Regions from separate parts of the Homo sapiens genome. Here region 1 is linked to region 2. The links come from fine-mapping of genetic effects on gene expression. A gene starts in region 2. The other region holds a variant in brackets. All regions are shown on one strand. Distances are from middle to middle.

What was found. PIP is the estimated chance that this variant, and not a neighbour inherited with it, causes the effect.
Region 1: its variant is fine-mapped to the expression of CATSPERB in visceral fat (GTEx, PIP 0.98).

The regions. Positions count from the first base shown.
Region 1 is chr14:91,296,675-91,305,000 of GRCh38, forward strand. CCDC88C (coiled-coil domain containing 88C) reads right to left here. Exons shown (of 30, transcript NM_001080414.4): 20 at 7,027-7,304; 21 at 3,253-3,396; 22 at 631-817. Among named protein-coding and RNA genes, the nearest start is that of GPR68, 56 kb to the left of the region's middle. RefSeq lists silencers at 6,529-6,588, 6,749-6,908. The variant G/C (reference allele first, on the strand shown) is at 4,322.
Region 2 is chr14:91,728,286-91,736,559 of GRCh38, forward strand. CATSPERB (catsper channel auxiliary subunit beta) reads right to left here and starts at 3,801. Exons shown (of 27, transcript NM_024764.4): 1 at 3,645-3,801; 2 at 1,116-1,194. The coding sequence starts at 1,194.

The DNA of each region.
Region 1 (8,326 bases), 430 kb before region 2:
GGCGTCTGAGACTGTTTCTCAAAGAGCAAACCTTGTCCTGAGGTGCCAGCTGTCCCTGGGGCTGTCTAGGAGGTGGGGTGAGACCTACGTGCTCCTCCCTGCCAGACCTGCCTCACCAGCCTTCCATGTGCTGAGGTCTGTTAAGATCTCATCTGGAGAGGGTCTTGCTGCGTGAGGCCATTTCCAACCTTGTGTACTAGAAGGGACGGCTCTGGAAGCCAGGGACTCCCGAGTGAGCTCCGTCCCAGAGGCAGCCACACCCCAAAATGGAGCAAATTCACACCACTTCTCTAGGACAGTGTGACTACTGAACTGAAGAGATGTAGGAAGACAGTATAGACACAGCTAAGAGGATCGAGATAAAACATCATCAACCGTCCCCACTGTGCCTCTCCCGACCCTGCAAAAGGTGACGGTCAGACAGGGGTGTTTTCGTATACAGTCCCACCAGAAGCCACAATGACCCCCGTCAGCACCTCTGGCTTCACCGCAGCCTCTGTGCCACCTCCACACATTTCTGTCTTTGAGCACAAATGCCCATGAGGACCCCTCACAGCTTGGCTGAGCCCTGGGCTGTCCCCTTGGGGGACTCATCCCTGTCTCCCGAGGCTCCCCTGGCGCTGGCCTCACCTCACAGTGGTTGTCCAGCTTGGTCAGCGAGATGTCCATGGTCTGGTGCTGCTCCTTCAGCTCGTCGAAGCGGGCCTGCCAGCGGTTGAGCTCCAGCTGCGCGTTGTTCAGTGAGGTTTTCAGCTCCTTGGTGTGGGCGTGCAGCTCCTCGTACTCCCCCTTCAGCTGGTGGTGCAGGAAATTGACCCTGGAGGAGGAAGAGTCACAGGGCAAAGGAGCTGAAGAGCCTGACAAACAGGTAACGGCCCAGAGACCTGGGCTATGTCCCAGCTCTGACAGTGGCAGGCTGTGCAACCTTAGACAAAATCACAACCTCTCTGGGCTTTTTTTTTTTTCCATGCATAAAATAAGGAGCTTGGACAAAACTGTCCATCAGCAAACTGTGTTCTTTGGGGATGCATGAGGGTACCCCTGATGCCACTACACTGAGCCTCCAGGGAGACTGAGCAGGCAAGCTCAGACACCTGTTTCAACACAGCATCACTGCTACCATCACTTCCATGCTACAGCTTTGGTATCTGTGTACACTTGAAAAACAAGATTCTGCTGTTTAAAAAAATGTTTAAACCACTAAACTAGACCATTTTTGCTCTAAAATTCTGTCTCTGCCCAGCTCTTCTTCCCAATTCCAAGCCCCTTTCTAATTTCAGCTCGTGAGATAAAGTGTGAGATGGTGTGTATTATGTAAATCTATTAAAATTGCTATCATCAAAACAACTATTATCCAACTGGGAGTTCTCTGGAGATTTATATCAGAAAGCTCATTACCAGGGTCTTGTGGACTTGATTTGGACATAGACGTGTCTTATTTGGCCTGTACAATTTTACTTTTTAAAAACAAATTAGTTGACCAGGTATGGTGGCTCACGCCTGTAATCCCAGCACTCTGGGAGGCTGAGGAGGGAGGATCGCTTGAGGCCAGTTCCACACCAGCCTAGGCGACATAGTGAGACCCCCATCTCTGCAAAAAGTAGAAAAAAGTTGCCGGGAACCCGGGAGGCGGAGCTTGCAGTGAGCCGAGATCGCGCCACTGCACTCCAGCCTGGTGACAGAGCAAGACTCCGTCTCAAAAAAAAAAATGTTGCCGGGCATAGTGACGCACACCTGTGCTCCCAGCTACTTGGGAGGCTGGGCTGGGAGGATCACTTAGGCCCAGGGAGTTAAGGCTGCAGTGAGCCATGATCATGTCACTCCAGCCTCAGTGGCTGAGCAAGATCCCATCTCAAAAAAAAAAAAAAAATTTAGTGGCCAGCATTAAAAAATTTGAAGTTTACATCAATACCCAAACATTCAGGTTCTCTTAAAATATAAAAAACAAAAGGCTGCCCAGGCAGTCCCGGGCCCGCCTCCAGCTGGCGGCCTTTGCTGGAGCCGATTCTCTGCTGCCCTTTTAGACGATGTGCATTCTCCGTTCAACAGTCTGTGGTCTATGTCTGGTACTGTTTCACCCATGTGCTTTATTTGCCTGGGGAGCCAAGGTAACTGAGTTTCTAACCCCCCGTATACACGAACTCGAGTATGTGGGAGGAGGAAGAATTTCGTATGGTCAAGCCTTTGCAATGAGACAGGACCTGGATTCCATCCTGACTCTGCTATTCACTAGAAACACTGACTCGGAACAAGTTATTTAATCTCTCCCAACCTGTTTCCTCATCTGTTAAAAAGAAAGCCAAAAAGATAACAATAGTATAGTCGATTCTCATTATGTGTGGTAGTCACATTCTATAAAGTTGCTGTAAACACTGAATTAGTGAACAGCGAAGCATCCAGCCTAGGGAAAAAATATAGAATTAGGTTCCCGGGAGCCTCTGGCCACATTTTTGTTACTGATCAATACATAACCTTGTTTTATGTGGGTTTCTGTTTGAAGATACCTTATGCAGCAATTCACAGCCAACAGCACTATAACTCATGCCTGAACAAAGCTTATCTAAGACTTTTTCTCTGTAAGGCACATCACAGCCACCTTCTGCTTAGGGACATGAAACAGCACTTCAGTACTACAATTGTGGGTCATTTTAAACAGCAAAGTCACTTCCCGAAAGCACAAAATATGAAAACCGTGGCATTGAAGAGATTCTGAAAGGGACATTTGTTTGCAGTAGGAGCTGAAACAAGAAGGCAGCGTGCTGTCGTGTGTGCCCTCAGCTGGGAAGGTGCGCATCCAGTGACTCCCGCATTTCACCACTCTGTGCGTGTCCACGAAAGCCCCACGGAGACTGGTCTTGGGGCGGCAAATAAAACTTTAGCAAGTAGGTGGATTCACAAATAGGGGTTCTGTGAATCATGAGCAATCTGCAGTTTCTCCTTCATGAGCAAGAGGCAGGCTTATGCCAGATGATGAATTCACCTGTGCCTGATGCAATCCTCACCACAAGGGTGGGAGGGGAGAACCACTTAACTCAGACGACGCGCCATCCCCAGGTGTCACCTGAGTGCTCTCATGCCAGCAACCAGCTAGAGTTGCCCTTTAGCTTATTTTACCCACCCAGCTGTTCACACAGCAAGGGATAAAAATCCACGATCGCCAGGGGACTTGAACTTCTCAGTGGTTGCTATGCAAGGAGAGTCTGAACAGAATCTGGGGTGCTGCTATGTGCAGGGCCGGGCGCCGGCGCTCACCTGTCCAGCTCGCCCCGCAGCCTCTGGTTCTCGCCCATGGCGAGGGCGTTTGTCCTCTGCTCCTGCTGCAGCGCCTCTCGCTCAGTGGTCAAGACCTTCTCCCGCTCCTCCAGCTCCGCCTTGCGCTTCAGCATGTCACCGTGCCTGTTGGAGGGAAGCACCTGCCGTGAGTCTGGCCAGGGCCTTCTTTTCCGACAGGTAACTCACATCCCAGAGGATCTGCGTGCCTCCCGTGAGAAAATGGGATTCCTCTGGAGAGTCTCTCTGCAGAAGTGAGGGGCATGGGGCAGGGAACAGGCGGGGAGCGCAGCCACTGGGAGCCATGTCAAGGCCAGCGCCAAGCCCTGGAGCCCAGAATCCTCTTCCTCCAGCCCGTTCTGTCTCCATAGTCCCTCCATGCCCTGATAAAGCAGTCGCTCTTCCTTTAGCCACCTGACAATGTGATGACTACATTTTCTGAGCTCCATGCCCTTCTCTTTTAGGGAATTATAAATACGCTACTAGGTAGTTCACTAAGCACAAATAAATCTAAGAGAAACCACAAAACAAACAGTGGAATTCCGCTGCACATCACAGCTAATCTCACCCTCCAAGGGCTGGAGAAGCCTCTCCCTCTCCCCTTAGGAGCCTGCATCCACTTGTTCTTAGTCTGGCCTTCCCCAGGGGACAGAGGCTCACCCAGGAGCTGCCAGGGACTAGTTGTCACATACACACAGCAGCTCTCCTCAGGCGCCTTAGCCACAGCCCTCACCGTCCCCACAACTTTCTCCTTACCCTCAAGGCTCTAATCTTCTCCAGGCTCTAATCTATCTTTGTCGGCTGCACTGGCCATCTCTTGGGGGGCAGAGTACAATGATGTAGCCCCATAGGTCCCGGCCCCTCCCCTTCCCAGCCTGTTTCAACCTCGTGTGTTCACGGGTGACCCAGGATCTCCTAGCAGACTGGAAGTGTTGAGAAGTCTGAGGCACAGTCTCCTGATCTTTCCCATTCAGGCAAATTCTTCTCTACAGACCCCTTCCTGAGTGTCTCACACCCAAAGACAATCTGACAGAGGCTAGCCAGTGTCCCT[G/C]GGGTTTCTGGCCTTTCTCTTCAGGACTCCACTGCACCTTGTTGGAAAAGCACATTAATCAAGCATGTCTCTAACCATTAGCAATGACCCAACTGTAGGGCAGAAACTTTATAACTCTTACTCACCACTGAATCCCCGTGTGAGGAATGACACGTAGTGAATGCTTGTTAGAGCAATGAGTGGGTGAGCGTCTCCGATTTTAGTGTCAAATGAGAAGAAGAGAAAACCATCATCCTTGTGTGCCATGTACCTACACTCCTAAACCTGTAGCCCTGCTGCAGACACAGCAAGGGAGCCTCCAGTCATCTGTCCAACCAGCAAAAAGCACTGAGTAACTACCACATGCTGTACTGAGCAAGGACCTGCAGGGAAAACAACAGTCCAGACTCCACCTGCCAAAACCTTTGCTCTCTGAATGCACATTAAGAATACAATAAGGGGTCAGCACGGTGGCTCACGCCTATAATCCCAGCATTTTGGGAGGCCGAGACAGGTGGATCACTTGAGGTAGGGAGTTCAAAACCAGCCTGGTCAACATGGTGAAACCCCATCTCTACTAAAAAATACAAAAATTAGCCGGGTGTGGTGGTGCATGCCTGTAGTCCCAGCTACTTGGGAGGCTGAAGTAGGAGGATTGCTTGAAGCCGGGAGGTGGAGGCTGCTGTGAGCCAAGATCGCTCCACTGCACTCCAGCCTGGGCGACAGAGTGAGACTCCATCTCAAAATAAAGAAAGAAGGAAAGAATACAATACAGCATTATTTAATACGACATAACATAACACTAAGAATAAGGCACGCAAGTGCCTGGTGAGTGCTGGGCATCATGCTAGTATCAGACTTACACGAATGCTTCATTAGTTTGTCAGCTGGGTGCAACTCCTACCATGTCTAGACACAGCACCACGTACACAATAAATGTCACACAAATAACAAGATGGGTGGGGGAAGACGAGGGAGAGATCAAAGTGAAAAGAGGCAGAAGATGCTACTTTAGGCCGGAAGGAGTAGTCTTATAGTTTCAGATGCCTCAACAGCCCCTGAAGGATGGAGATCTGGATGGATAAAAGGGGTGAAGAACTCCAGATAGAGACAAAAAGGAAGCACTTGGCAAGTGAATAAATGAATGTCATCACCACCCATGAACCCACAAGCATCATCAGCGCCCGCACAAGGCTTTTGTGATTCAATGACATTTGTGGCTCCTGACCGTGGAGATGTCCTCCCCACTCCCACCTTGAAGAACCAACGATCACTTAGCCATGTTGTTGAGGCGGCTCCAAAGGATATACCATCAGCAGGGCCATTTCCCAGGCAAAGGAAGTAGATCTTGCTCCCTCTGTTGTACTCCAAGTACCTGAGAGCCTCTCTTTAGCCATGTCTCTCTCATGCATCAGATTCAGGTGCACATCACACCTGCCCCTCAGACTCTGGAGAGCAGCATCCTACCTCTCCTAGCCCTCCCTGGATCCTGCCATGCCCTGCGCAGGTGCCTGGTACCATCACTGATCAGCAGGAGACAGAATCCCAGCCCAGATTGGCTGACTTAATGAATACAAAACCCAAGACCATGAACTGTCAAGAGTGCAAAGTTAAGATGTGTGCATTTCAATGTAAGTTTTACCTGTAAAAAATGGGGTGAGGGTGTGGAGAGTGGGAGGTGCACATGAAATGAGAACAGCAGGACATAAATGACTGTCGAGAGTGCATGATGCATACACAAGAGTTTCACTATATGATTCTGCTTCCTTTCTATATGTTCGGAAGTTTCCATAATTAAAGGTTAAAAATGAAAAAAAGCAAGCGAGACCTTGATATGAAAGAGAAGAGCTGGGAGGCCAGAGAAGGCATACCCCTACAAACGGAGCCGTGGAGAATTCCCTCCTTATTTCTGTTTTGGGGAGAAAAGAGACAGAAGAGAACCCTTAGGGATCAGGGCCCCAAAGGCCCACTGGAAATAGTAGAGGCATCCCCTTCTCCACACAGGAGCCCCTCTTACTACTGTCTTCAGTTGCACAAATTCCAAATTGCTAAAGGTAACGTTTATTTCCTTCCTTTTGGGAAAGCTCAGGTGCCCCAACAATGGGAAGCAGCTGGCCAAGAGATTTCCTGCAGGGGAGGTCCAGGGAAGTCCCAGTCCTCCGCGCAGCCTGACAGACTCCCCAGGCCTGGCCTCAGGCCCCGCTGCAGGCCTACCCAGGGGCCCCACCTCCACCCTCCTTCACCTCCCCTCCCCACACACCCTGCCTCTCCCCCGGGCCCTGCCCACTTCCCCAAAGCCCTGCCTCTCCTGAGACCCTCTCCTGAGACCCCACCTCTGCTCCAGGCTCCACCTCTCCTCCAGGCTCCACCCTTCTCACGAGGCCCCCGCCTCTCGTCCAGGCTCCACCCATCTCCCCCAGTCCCTGCCTTTCCCACAGGTCCTACCCACCTCCCCCAGACCCCGCCTCTCTCCAGGCTCCACCTCTCTCCCCAGGCTCTGCCTCTCCTCCAGGCTCCACCCCTCTCCCCAGGCCCCACCCCTCCTCCAGGCTCTATCACTCTCCCCCAGGTCCCACCCATCTCCTCCAGGCTCCACCCATCTTCCCCAGGCCCTGCCTCTCCCCTAGGTCCCACCCATCTACCCCAGGCCCCACCTTTCCCCCTGGGCCCAGCCTCTCCTCTGGACTCTACCCCTCCCCAGATCCCCTTCCTTCCCCAGGCCCTACCTCTCCCCGAGCTCCTTGTGCTCCAGCTCCAGATTCCGATGCAGTGTCTTTAGGCAGCTGTGCTGGCGGATGAGGGCCTCGTACTCGGCCGATTGCCGCTCGTGCAGCGTGCCCAGGTGCTCGTGGTCCTGCAGCAGGGCCTCGTAGGCCGCTGTAAGTTGCTCCTGCTGCCTCTGCAGGCTTTCGTTCTCCGTCTCCTTGGCCGTGTGGTGGTTCTGCAGCAGCGTGTACTGCGCGGTGAGCGCTGCGCTCTGGGAACTCAGCGTGGAGTTCTCCACCTGCCGAGAGGGAGAAGCGCGGCGTGGCGCAGGCCCCACAGTCAGCGAGGAGGGCTGGGGAGCAGGTCAAGTGCTCGAGCAGACACGAAAATAGCCGGGACCCTCAGGGCAGAAGACCCAGAGGGTACCCAGGATGGCTGTTCCAGAACTTAAGCAACTGCTGTGGGAAGGGGACTAAACCGCATAGACGGGCACTCAGAGGGTACTTCAGTCCTGAGCCACTCGCCACAAATGTGAGCTGCTGGGGCAGATGATGTCCTTTCCCTGGATAACTCCCTTGTGTGCTGTGCCCTCTCTGACTATTTTTTAAAAACCTCTTTTCAGCTGACTGTGGTGGCTCAGGCTTGTAATCCCAGGACTTCAGGAAGCAGAAGCAGGAGGGTCACTTGAACCAAAGAATTCAAGACCAGCCTGAGCAACATAGTGAGACCCCATCTCTACAAAAAAAAAGTATTTTTAACTTAGCTGGGCATGGTGTTGTATGCCTATAGTCCCAGCTACTTGGGAGGCTGAGGCAGGAGGACTGCTTGAGCCCAGGAGTTGGAGGTTATAGTGAGCTATGATTGCAGCACTGCACTCCAGCCTGGGCGACAGAGTGAAACCCTGTCTCTTACAATGAAAACAGAACCTATTTTCTAGAACAAGTATACAGAATATCTGTAAATAAGGATATAGAATACCTGAACAATACTATCAACCTACTTAACATAATTGATATTTGTATACCTCTCCATCCAACAACATCCAAAATCATCAGAAAACTGAAGAGGAGGGAATACTTCCCAAATCATTTTATGAAGCCAGAATTACCCTGATATTAAAACCAGATTAAGACTGTAAGAAAAATTCAAAATAGTAAGTCAATATACTATTTTCTTGTTACCAGAACAAATTCCGATTTCTTTGCCAAACAGTTTCCTGTTGATTGTCCTTGCCCCATAAGATACATATTTTCAAACTTTTCTCAGAAATTGCAATAAAAAGCCAGGTGTGGTGGCTCACGCCTGTAATCCCAGCACTTT
Region 2 (8,274 bases):
TGTATTTTTTATAGAGAAGAGGTTTTGCCATGTTGCCCAGGCTGGTCTCCAACTCCTGGGCTCAAGGTATCCTCCTGTCTCAGCCTCCCAAAGTGCTGGGATTACAGGTGTGAGCCACTGCACCTGGCCAAAGAGTTTTTTCTAACACTTGTCTCATTGCAACTAATTGATTTGTCCTCTGCACTTTGGTATCATTTTGTGAATTATGTACTCATATCAACAGGATCTTCTGGGCTTGGGTGGTAAAAACAGAGGCAGAGATACTGTGAGGAGAGACAGAGAAACAATTTCAAACTTTTCTAACTTTCCCTCCACGGACTGCTTTGCCTAGAAATTCTCAGATTATAGAGTTTGCTAGATTCTGTTATAATAATAAAACACAGAAAATTACTCTTTCGCAAGCTTCTAAAGGAAAGATGTGCCAGAGAAGTTATACTTTCAACAGCATGTGACTTCTTCAACAAGAATCATGATATAAAGGGAAACCACACAAGTGTAACCACCAATGGAATGCCTGCTCTGACTACCATAAAAATCCACTGTGGGACAAACGTACAGAAAAAAATGCCATTTATGAAATTCATTCATTGCCCTATTCACAGTTATACAACCACAACAGTCCCCCTTTTTCTGTGATCTCACTTTCCACAGTTTCAGTTACCTGTAGCCAACCATAGTCTAAAAACATAAAGTGGAAACTTTCAGAAATAAGCAATTTGTAAGTTTTACATTGTGCACTGTTCTGAGCAGTGTGATAAAATCTCATGCCATCGGCCAGGTGTGGTGGCTCATGCCTGTAATCTCAGCACTTTGGGAGGCTGAGGCAGGTGAATCACGAGGTCAGGAGTTCAAGACCAGCCTGGCCAAGATGGGTGAAACCCCATCTCTACTAAAAATACAAAAATTAGCCAGGCGTGGTGGTGGGCACCTGTAATCCCAGGTACTCGGGATATTAGAAGCCTCTAGACCAGAGTATAATTGACAATATTGGGAAACAATTGGAAGATAAGATAAAGAAGAAATACTAAAAGAAAAATTTTTTACTGTAAATAAGGAAGAGACACAAATAAGAACTCCTGAGAAGGAAATAGAGAGTAAGATGGTCTGAAACTTACCTTTATTATATACTATTCCTGATGAAAATTCAAATATGTTCAAAAGCAAAACTGAAACATATATAAGTGGCGATTCCATCTGTTGGAATAAATAAGAATTATTTTCACTCAATTTCTGAACATATTTTTGAATTCCTTTTGCTATAAACAACTACAAAGTAGTAAAGAAATAATCTCAATATTCTTAATATTTCACACTGTGTGACAAAAGCAGACAACACAACAGTTGCCTAAACTCTAAATTTACTCCCTACTTGGTATTAAAGGTAAATTTATAGGTATAATTATTACAAACTAGAAAAAGAGATGTGGCTCAGGTTTTCCTTCAGTAGGTAACCTTTAGAGAGGTGAGATCAGTTACACAGCTATGTAAAACAGAGCCTGAACTGATGAAGACTCTGAGGATGATACAGCTGTAACTTAATCTAATATTTTGACAACGTTGCTTTTGGGGAAGACAATTCACATGGTCCTGAGTTTCCCTGCACATTCTCGTTGAGTGTGCCAAGAATGCAAGGCCCTGGATGGTGTTCATCTCAGGCTTGTGTTTTGTAGCCACCAGCCTTGAGGGATGAGGTAAGGCACCCTGGACAACAGCAGGCTTGTTTCCATGGTGAATTGCTTAATCTCACTGTACCTCTCCTGTAATGCACTCCACTACGTGTATAAGCATCCATTATGGGCTCAATTTTCTACCCTCAAAATTCTGAAGTTGAAATCCTAACCACCCTTACCTCAGAAGGCAATCATGTTTGGAGATAGGATTTTTAAACAGGTGATGAAGTGAAAATGAAGTCATTAGGGTGGGCCCTCATCCAATAGGACTGGTGTCCTCAGAGAAGAGGAAATTTGGACATAGGCAGGGTGAAGTGAAGACACAGAGGGAAGACATTCAGAGGGAAGATGAAGGGAAGACACAGGAAGAAGACAGCCAGCCACCTATAAACTCAGGAGAGACGCATGAACAGTTCCTTCCTCATGGCCCTCAGAAGGAATTAACCCTACAGACACCTTGATCTCAGATTTCTAGCCTCCAGAACTGTGAGAAAATAAATTTCTGTTGTTTAAGCCACCCAGTGTATGGGCCTTTGTTATGGCAGCCCTAGAAAACTAACACAGCATCCATGATGAATTTCACCTCTAAGGAACTTGGGGGACAGGAGGTACTGGAGTGAGCAACCTGTGGACACTCTGGCTACTGCTTTTGCTATTAGTAATAAAGTCCTTCGTCTCTGACCTAGGAGTCTTGTGTCTTTTGCCAGCATCCAAGAAAACAGAAACATACTAATTTGCCAACTCTAAGTGGAATAAAATCTCAGAACTTTGTGCAGTTCCTGACAACTGCTGAGTAAATTAAATGTAACTGGTGTTTTTCCTTCATCAAAACTGACTTGCTTATTAAATACATTTAATTGACAATAGAAAGCTCAAACAGTTTGATTTTTTTGAATTCATTCTTATCACATTAACAGGGGAGAACTGAAGGTTTTTAGTGCATTTTTAAAAATCATCTGAGAAAACAACTTGTTTTCACAAGGTAAGAGGAAACAAATGGTAGATTAAAATTCTGTCGGCATGGTGCAATGCTCAAGTATATTTTTGGTGTAAGAACGAATTTAACATTAAGTGGAGACATTATCACAGTTAAACTCTGAAAATAGTCCCTTTACCAGAAAAATCTTATATCACTTTGCTAAACATTCAAATTAAATGATACAACACCATTATTAGAATCTTTATGCCTCTTCATGGGTCACCTGTGCAAACTCGAGAGAGTTAGTATGAAGCACGTGGTGGAAATTCTGGTTTTAATGTCAGCAAGCTTGTTCTGCAAGCTTTCTTATCTGCCATCCTGCAAGCTCAAGAATTTCTGCTACCTACTGGTTTCTTTAATTCTTTGGGGCATAGTTCCAGTCTCATTCTTCTTATTTTCCCTTCAATATTACAACTTTTCCTTATTTGATACTATCTTCTTTCAACTTTCAGCTCATAGTTAGAGTAAAAACATAGACTTTAGCCTAAGACGAAGTCTGTCCATCGAAATATTTGATTTTTAGCAAGCTATTTAACTTCTTGGAGTTCATATTCTATTCAGTAAAATGGGGATAACAGGCACTTCACAGTGTTGTTGTGAGAATTAAATGAAAAATACCTTAAAACATCTAACATATTCTATACAGAATAAGCACTTGACAAGTATTACTTCTGAATTCCATATCTCCATACACTGCAGCAACTTCTTTTTCCTCATCACACTCCCCTACTGACCTACTTAGCAGTTAAATTACCCCCAGTTATCATTCCTTTGTAATTATTATAAGTTTTACATAATTACTGGATACAAGTCATGTATCTGGGCATTTTCTCTTCTCTGGCACTAAATAAACATTGGGAATTGCCCCATTGAAGGAAGCTATTTCCTCCCCCAGTTGGTTCATTTATAGTTACTCCATTATTATGGAATAGTGATCACATTATAAATTCATACTCCAGCAGGGTCCTTATTTTAATATTTTTTACTGTAATTACCTCTTTAGGAGATGCGCAACTAGTTGTGTTCTTCTTTTTTATATTTTTTCTCAGTTTTCTTCCATATAGACTGAGAAGAAAGACCCAAAGTCAGGAGCCAAGTTTTCCCTGTTGACTGGCTTAGCACTCTAGTCACCTTTGGTAACAGCCAATCAGCAGCTACCAAGTACAGAAGCATGCTTAGAAAATCTAAAGGACAGGCAGTTGGAATTTCCAACTAACTGCCTCTTTCAGAGCACCACAGGCCATTTTCTTTAAAAACCGATGAGAGGTGGAGGTTCTCCAAACCTTCCATCTTTAATATAGCATTTATCTAGGAAGGATCAGAAACCTACATATGATTATCTATAAAACACTTCAATGATCATACGATCATTGAATGCCTGGGGAAAAACATAAATGCTAAAAGCTCATGCTAACTGCATATAATAAGGTTTAAAAGGAGGCAATCTCTCAAAGGGGAGGAGCTTCATAACTGGGTCTTTAAGGAAGACTGGGACTTAAAAAAAATAGAGAAGGCCTTATTGACAGGTAAACAAGACAAGCAAATACACAAAGCACAAAGTTAGAAATGAGCTGTGGACGCATGGAAACAGTGAGACCAAATGGCATGCCAGTTTGTCCTCCGTATTCATGTTGTGTGACTGTCCTTGATGTGGTTGTATGTGCTCACTAAGGCTGCCTTTGACTGAGTACCGAGTGAGCTGAGCTTGAACCTTTCTGTCTTACCCAGCGCCCTGACTAGTCATGAATGGTCACAGAGGCTGACACATACTTTTTGATAATCATGATAATAAAACGTGTTTTATACTCAGGTTGTCCTTCAGAAGTCCCTTCACATGGCCATGTAAAACCTGCTTTACCCTCATATCCTGAAATATGTCTGGTATCTGGGTTTAATCTATTCCTGGAAGAGCCCGCATCAGAAATATATTTCTCTCACCCTTTCTGGTGACCTTGACCTAAAGAAGAACCTGAAACAGTGTGCAAAACACAACAAAATATATTTCCTTATAAAGACTCAGTTCCCAGAAACTTGGAGCTCTCTTTTTTTGTTGCCTGTTTCCCACTAGGGAAGGCAATAAAGCTTTTATGGAAGAAGATGTAGCTTTCAGTTACCATAGCAACACTGCTACACATTAAAAAAAAGTCTGAGCAATACTGAAGGTACACATTGAGAGCTCTAAAAAGAATGATGAAGCAGGTGACATTTGCCTTCTTTCTCCCCAGCAACCTCTTAGTTTTCTTTTCCTCATTTGCCCCCACATTTTGTTTCCTAACTTACGAAAGAGTAAAGGATCTGTTTTCAATCACAGTCACTGATGAATTACACTTTGATGTGAGTACCAAGACTACTCCCACAGTAGGTGATTCATCTGTAACAGTGGAATGAAAGGGGTTCTTCTGCCTGAAAAACAAATTATGCACTGGGCTTCCGTCTAGTCAGGAGGATAGGGGGCAAGGCAATGGGCTGATTGAAAGAAGGATGACTTTGACTTTTTTTGTAATTTTTTGCTGGCTATAACAGGGCTTATTATGTGTGAAAAATGAAAACAAGTATAGAGAAATCAATTACGCATAAATCAACAACCAGATATAACCACTGTGGACATTTTGACATTTCTCGAGTCTGTTTCTTCTGCATTTATATGTCCTTCTTTCAGTCATTGTTAGTCTGACCATTTTCTCGTGTAACTCAAGTGTTTTATTTAAGTCTTCGCAGTTGTAGATCTAAAAATAACGGTACCTAATTTACTTAAACATAAAATATTTTTCTATTTCCAGTGTTTTCCTTTTTGAGAAATGTGGTAATGAATAATCCTGAACAAAATTATTTTCCTACATTTAAAAATATTTCCTTAGGATATGAACATGTTTAAGACTCTTGAATGTATGTTGACAAATTGCTTTCCAGAAACCCAGCAGTGAAAATTAGATATAATCTGAAATAATTTGATACATTAAAAAATCTTGTTTTACTTTTTTCAATATTGGTTCAACTGAACACTTATAAATATGCTTGTTTGACATTTTTTTCTTCTATAAATTATCTGGGCATGTTGTTAAACATTTTCTACGGGAAATTTAGTGTTTTGCTTGTGAAATGGTAAAATAACCCCTTGCAATATTTAATGTAAATATTTAACTCAATTTGTCATGTAACAATTTTATTTATAAATTTTTCTTGTCTTTGTTTTATTTATTAATTTATTTATTTGAGATGGAGTCTCATCTCTGTCATCCAGGCTGGAGTGCAGTGGTGCAATCTTGGCTCACTGCAACCTCCGCCTCCCGGGTGCAAGTGATTCTCATGCCTCAGCCTTCTGAGTAGCTGGGATTACAGGCGTGCGCCACCACGCCCAGATAATTTTTGTATTTTCAGTAGAGACAGGGTTTCACCATGTTGGCCAGGCTGGTCTTGAACTCCTGACCTCAGGTGATCTGCCTGCCTCGGCCTCCCAAAATGCTGAGATTATAGGCATGAGCCACCGTGCCCAGCCTTCTTATCCTTTTTATGTGAGAAATTTTAAAGACTCAAAAAGTTCAAAGACTAAGATAACGAGGATGTTTCAGTCATCCAAGATTAAAATCACCCTCAGTTTTTAATAACTTTTTATTATGGGATGTGCCAAACATTGGGGGAAAAGTAGAGAGAACTATACATTATATATATGTAAATAATATATATATTATAACATATATATTCTATTTTGTGTAATTGCCTACCTTCGGTCTTGTTTCATCTATACTCTCTTTCACTCACTTCCTCCTCTAGTATTATTTTGTTGTTTTTTGGTGGTGTTTGTTGTTTTTTCTGAGGCACAGTCTCGCTCTGTCACCCAGGCTGGAATGCAGTGGTCTGATCCCGGCTCACTGAAACCATCCACCTCCGGAATTCAAGAGATTCTCTTGCCTCAGCCTCCCAAGTAACTGGGATTACAGGTGTGCGCCACCACGCCCAGCTAATTTTTAGTAAAGATGGAGTTTCTCCATGTTGGTCAGGCTGGTCTCAAACTCCTGGCCTCAAGTGATCCATCTGCCTTGGCCTATCAAAGTGCTGGGATTATAGGCATGAGCCACCGCATCCAGCCTGCAGGATTACTTTGAAGATATCCTAGACAACTGTATATATTTCAGTATGTATTTCTAAGAGAAAATGACTTTTTTTAAAGAAAAGAAAACCACAATACAATTTAAAACCTAAAAATAATAGTAAGTCCCAGATATCTACCCAGTGACTGTTTATATTTCCTCAGTTACCTCATTCACAAAATTTTTTATAGTTGTATGAATCAGGATTCAATAAGGTTCAAACTTTGCCACTGGTTGATGTATCTCTGAGGTGTCAAAATCTACAAGTAATTTTCCTTTCACCTCTCCCTTCACCCCATCATTTTTTTTTCTCTCGCTTTTTCCTTGAAATTCATTAAAGAAGAAGTTAGTTGTAATGTGTTTCCCATGGTTTGGATTTTGCTGAGTGCATCATTATGGTATCTTTTTACATCATAAGTTTATCATATTGTTCGGTAAATTGTTAAGTAGATTTAGAGGCTTGATCAGATGCAGGTTTAATTTTTTTGTCAAGAACACTTCATAGGTGGTGTTGGGTACTTCCATCAGGAGGCACCTAAGGTGTGGTTAGCTCTTTTTCTGATGTAGCATCTATCATTTATTGCCTAAATCTGTTAAATTCATTAGAGGCTGCAGAGTGGTGATGTATTATCATTTCTTCTTTGCTTATTAGCTGGAATACTTTTATAAAGATAACTTTTCATGCATCAACTATTTGTTTACTCAGAGGTACAATTCCTAAGAGAAGACAAATGCTTCATTCTTTTCCTTCGTTTACCATTTTGAAAATAATGAATTGATTCCCTAGCATCCTTATAGAGGCAACCAATAAAGTTCATTTTTGCTATCATTATGAACTCACAGGTTTCCATTTAAATATATTTAATGTATTTCTATCATTATGGTTATTATCCTTATTGATGCTCAAGGTGTCTAATTTTAACAGGTATGGTCCCTCCAAAGTTCGCTTCTGTCTTTTTGACATGACTCTAGTCATTTTTGACAGTTTCCTTCCTTCCTTATAAGACAAGATACTCTAGGCTCACCTTCTACATTTCCTGCCCCAGACATGGACTCAGTCATTTCTCTATATAATTCTGATTCCTTTTACTGGAAAATCGTATTCAGAAGCCATAGTTTTGGGAATTTGGCCAGTCTTTTTTTTTTTTTTTCTTTAATAAATATAGAAAACCTGGCCAGGTACAGTGGCTCACACTTGTAATCCCAGCACTTTGGGAGGCCAAGGCAGGCAGGTAACTTGAGGCCAGGAGTTCAAGACCACCCTGGCCAACATGGTGAAACTCTTCTCTACTAAAAATACAAAAATTAGCTGGACGTGGTGGCACACGCCTGTAGTCCCAGCTACTCAGTAGGCTAAGGGCAGGAGAATCACTTGAACCCAGTAGGCGGAGGTTGCAGTGAGCCAAGATCATGTCACTGTACTCCAGTTTAGGCAACAGAACAAGATCTGTCTCAAAAAGAAAGAAAGAAAGAAAAAGAAAGGAAGGAAGGAAGGAAGGAAGGAAGGCAGGCAGGCAGGCTTATGTAGGCAGGCTTA